Linked DNA regions of Homo sapiens: region 2 is linked to region 1. The links come from fine-mapping of genetic effects on gene expression. Tissue or cell type: whole blood. Region 1 holds a variant in brackets; the other region holds the start of a gene. All regions are shown on one strand. Distances are between the middles of the regions.

What was found. PIP is the estimated chance that this variant, and not a neighbour inherited with it, causes the effect.
Region 2: it holds the start of DSE, and the variant in region 1 is fine-mapped to the expression of DSE in whole blood (INTERVAL, PIP above 0.99).

What each region holds. Positions count from the first base shown.
Region 1 is chr6:116,431,340-116,433,839 of GRCh38, forward strand. It overlaps DSE (dermatan sulfate epimerase), which reads left to right. Exons shown (of 6, transcript NM_013352.4): 5 at 2,004-2,211. Among named protein-coding and RNA genes, the nearest start is that of CALHM6, 29 kb to the right of the region's middle. The variant G/A (reference allele first, on the strand shown) is at 1,493.
Region 2 is chr6:116,369,586-116,372,085 of GRCh38, forward strand. DSE (dermatan sulfate epimerase) reads left to right here and starts at 1,362. Exons shown (of 6, transcript NM_013352.4): 1 at 1,362-1,536. LOC100287467 (a long non-coding RNA gene) reads right to left here and starts at 2,134. Exons shown (of 1, transcript NR_148944.1): 1 at 1-2,134. RefSeq lists enhancers at 169-218, 1,733-2,233 and silencers at 1,149-1,678, 1,441-1,735.

The sequences.
Region 1 (2,500 bases):
AATTCAAGAGTTGCATATAGCCAGAACATTTTGGAGGCTAATGTGAGTATTTATGATTTAGGTATTATAAAGTTTGGAGGGTTATGGATTAAATACAATTTCTAGGCCCCTCAATACTTTTTTTTTATATATCCAAACTTGAGTAATATACGAACTCATCTTCATCATTGCAAGCAAAATATAAACATTTGTGATTACCTGTCAGTTTTCCTTTATATGTGATCCCTGATCAATCCTATTTTAATTTTTGGTTTTCAGTTTTTTCTTTCAAACTATACAGACATGATTCAAAATGAAAGATTACACCTACACATTTAAGTTGGAGCTTTAGTATTGTAATATTTTATTGAAGTAAATAGTATAGAAAAGTAAACAAAAAAAGTGCTGTAAAACTTGTAATTTCTTTATTGCTGTGTCATTTAGCCTTCTAAGAGAACTAGCTCTAAAAAAAATATATACATGATTTAATAATGTATTCATTTCCAGAGAACTTTGTAACCTTTTTTTATTTCTAAAACAGGACTAAGATGTTAGAACAAGTTATAAAGGAAAATTTTATCAGGATAGATTCCCCCCCTTCCCCAAGGAAATGCAATTTTTAGATGGTGATTCTAGACCTACAACAAATAATATAGTATTTAAATCTTTTGGCTCTGGTAGTATACATACAGATTAATAGAATCTCCATTATTGGACTAATTCAAAAATATTGCAGAGCATAAGAACCATTTTAAGATTTAGTTTAGACTTACATTCAAAAAAATACTGCTTTGTTGCTTTTTCTTAGACATGCAGGAGAGGCCTGTTTTGCAATTCATCCTAGTAAACAAAGGCTACCTGAAGCAAGGGACCTTTAAGAGGTTTCAGTGCTTTGTAATTTAAGCTGAGATCTAAAGGCTAACTACATCAGGAATTGTGTTTGCTGTGAGCTGTGTCTGTGGCTACTTCCTAAAGTGGAAAAGACAGTATGAACATGTCTAAGAGCAGCATTTATATGTTTGTGTTAATTAAACAAACTTTTATTGAACATCTGTGTGCCAGGCACTGTAGTAGGCAGAGGATTCAAAGAGGAATAAAACACATCTCCTGCTTTCAAGGAATTCACAGACTAGTAGAAGATTCAGAAAATATCATTTTAAAATAAGGTATACTTACAAGATCATTTACTAAATTATTAGGAACAAAAACATTAGCTGTAAATTACATAAATATAATTGTGGTAACATTTTAGAAGAGGTTCTATGTTAAAGCAATCTGTTTTCAACTTCATTTCTCTCTTTTTTTTTTTTTCTACAGTTGATACTCTAGTAGCAATTTTTTTGTCTGGCTGAGTTTTCTATCTTGCTGCTTCTTTTTTCATGAACACGTGGAGCATATCCAGTCTTACCTGCTTTTATTTTTCTTCCCTATTCCAAAAATGATATATGGCTTTATGATCCTTGCATTTTCTGTCGTTTAACTTCCAGCAGTACATACTGGCAGGAGCTACTCC[G/A]GGAATTAAATTTTCTTCCTGTAGAAACTCAGTCTCTCCCCTGAACTTCGTATATAGTATAACTTACACTTTATTGAAGCCAAACTGAAGCATGTTATTTTATTATCTTGGCCTAGAATGCATGTTGAGTTGTGGGAGAGCTAGTGTTCATTCCAGGTTCAGAAACCCAAACTGCACAAGAGGATGTCCCATGTATATATGCAAATATAATCACGTATAGCATGAACATTGGAAAATGAGGAAGGCAGGGAATAGGTGTAGCACTAATGTTACCAAGGACAGGTTACCACATAATAAATACAAGCTTGCACACAACATATGTGGAAGACCTTTTGAGGGATTCTGACTAACTGGTCTGGAATAAAATGTGAGGATTGTGATTTTTCTTTTATTTTATCCCTTCCATTACACAATTCTAATTTGCAACTAGATTTGAAAAGTCATTGTTTAGACCTATATAGGAGTGTGAAGTTTTCAAAGTATCTTAATTCTTTCCAACTTATTTCCCTAGGGTTTCAAAGGACTGTGGCTATTGCGGACTCAAATTACAACTGGTTTTATGGTCCAGAAAGCCAATTAGTGTTCCTTGATAAATTTGTCATGCGTAATGGCAGTGGTAACTGGCTAGCTGACCAAATCAGAAGGAACCGTGTGGTGGAAGGTCCAGGAACACCATCCAAAGGGCAGCGCTGGTGCACTCTGCACACAGAATTTCTCTGGTATGACACATTGGGCTAGCTTTAAAGAGAAATGGTACCCAAGGGTACTATTCATGCTATGCACTTGTTTTTTTGCATTTAAAAAGAAAAACTAAAACACTTTTTAAATCTTTTCTCCATGCCACCTGAGTATATGAAGTTTCAATTCAACTCATATCACTGTTTTTGAAACTCTTAGAAACTTTTCTTTTTTAAAAAAAAATTTCAACTTTTAGATACAGGGGTACATGTGCAGTATACCCAGGTAGTGAGCATAGTACCTAATAGGTAGTGTTAGAAACATTTCTTT
Region 2 (2,500 bases), 62 kb before region 1:
TTTGGATTTGAACCAAAGATTAGTTCCAGTTTCCAGAGCCCTCTTCTCTCCTCGACAGGCCTTCCCTAAAGCATCAAGAAGTTTATGCAAATTAGTGGTTCACCTGAGTGAACATTTAAAAAATTTAATAGTACCACTTCCTCTTGACCTGTTTGTAAGGAGTTCCTCTTAAATGCAATTTCTGAAAAAGAGAAGCATAAACTGAGACATCCACATTTTTTCCTTATTTGGCCAAATAGAAGTGAGAACCTCTGAGGATAGAGGAATTGGATGGAGGTGCCCTTCAGAACTCATGGAGAAAAGCACTGCTCCCAGTAAAATATCTCTCATTCTAATGAATGGGTAAGTATCCTACAAATCTTTCACTTCTGTACAATCTAGGTCTGGTAGGTTACTTGCACACACTGGGTGGAGGTGGAAGGGGCAAAGTATTCCTGAGGTGATGGCCCTGATCCTACCTCACATCTCCTTGGGGCCTGGTTGGACCTGGCTGAGCGTGTTTGAGCAGTGGCTGATTTTTGGAAAACAGGAGGACTCTTCTCCAGGAGGCTGTGACTACCAAGGTTGCAAATGCTCCACCTGAACTTGGGTGCATGAGGGATCTCTCTCTCTCACACACACACACCCCCCCACCGCGTAAGATAAATTTCTGTTTGTGAGCTGCCTACATTAAATGCTTTGCTCCTGACCTTCTGTGATTAAAATCTGTTCCGTTTGCAGGGTTCGGTGCGCTTGGATTTAGTGTATTTTGTTGGTACAGTAAAAAAGAGAACTGCTTCTCTATAGGTGACCCCCGCCCCAAAGTCCCCCCTCCCACTAACTTCTCTTTGAGAAGAGAGTAAAACCGAATTCGAGAGAAAAGAGGCAGTAACTATTCGGGAGGAGGCAGACTGGAGTGGGCACCAGTCCCGGTAGTAAGAGTCTTAACGTCTTCCTCGCTTTCCTCTCGCAGAGTAGTATGGAAGCATCAGCTCCTCCCCCTGGGCCTCCAAAAGTTACCTTTCCTTTGGGTGTGATTCTCGAACCCGAAGCGTTTGAGTCCTAAGAAACTAGAACAAGTTAGAGCCAAAGAGGCCTGGCGGGCGGGGGTGCGGGTGGAGTCCGGGCCGGGTGGCGTGGAAGGCCGAGCACAGCTGCGAGCGGCGAGTCCCGGGAGAGGAGGAGCGGGAGAAAGCGGGGCGGGCCTGCGGTCGGGGTTCGGCCGGGGGAGGGGGTCCCCGTTTCCCTCTCCTCATCCTCGTCTCCTCTGGCTCTGGTGACGTTGCGGTTTCCTCCCCCCTCCAGCGGAGCCTCAGCGCCCGCCGCGTCCCTCCCTCCGCCCCTTTCGCCCACACCTACCCGCCCCCGCCGGCCCGGCTCTCAGTAGCGTCGCCCGAGGCTGCAGCAGCGCATCCCGGGGCATGGCGCGGCGGGGGCGCGGAGGGCTCGGTTCGGAGGGGGCCGGGAGCCCGGGCGCCCTGGAGTGAGGAGGACCGGGAGCTGGCTCTGGAGGCTGCGGAGGCGACGCCGGAGAGAACGAAGCCTCGGCTGGGAGCGGTAAGTGGAGGGGCGCGCAAGGGACGAGCTGGGGCGCGCGGCGCAACTTTCTTCGGGAGTTTCGGGCGGGTAGCCTTCGGGGCTGTCCCGGCGCGGGCGGGAGACGGAGAGCCACGTCCCCGGCTGAGAGCGGAGCGCCGCGGGTTGCGCGCCCGGGCCCGGCTCGGCTGGACTCCGAGAGAGCGCCTGACGCGTGAAGCCTGAGCCACGGGCTTCCCCGGCGGCGGAGCAGCCTCGAGGGGCAGCTTTTCGATCCTCCCCACCCCCTTGAACGCCGAGCACCGAGCCGGGAACACGATGAGAACCTGGAGATCGCATTCCGTGCGTCGGATCTGGCCGGCCCAGCCGCGATTTCCTCGACGGTCCTTGGGGCCTCGGCTTCACTCTGCGGGGTTGGGTGGCACACCCTCGCGTCCTCCTTTCCCTCCGTACCCCAGCCATTTGGGGGCAGGGGAGGTGGCGGCGGCTTGTGTGCAGATCCTGGCGCTGGCAACCCTACTTTGCGGCTGCAGAAGCCGAGGAAGAGCTCCCCAAGCCTCTCCCAGACGCTGGATTCCAGCGCTCCTGGGCTCCGCCGGCACTCGGAGAAATTGTTAGTAAACCTCATCCCCGAGGCAGTCCCGGGGAGGGGAGGAGGCGGGGGCTTGACTCACAGACTGGGAAGCTCTGAAAGCGATGCCACATGGGCTCAAGATCTGTCGGGGCTGGAATCTGAGCTAAGTTTGTGACCTGAGAACTTTTTCGTTTATATCGCTCCTTTAAAGCAGCAGCCTCCTCTTAAGCCGGCTGGCATTCAGATGGAAACCGAAGCCTTTGGTTAAAATCAGGAGGTGAACCTCACTTACCTGAAATTCTTTAGGTCAGGCAATGACGCTTTTAGTTCTAGGAATCTTCGTGTAATAAAGTTCTTTTTAAAAATTTTTTCGTTGGTCATGGTTTAGAAAGTCATGGTTTAGCACTGTTA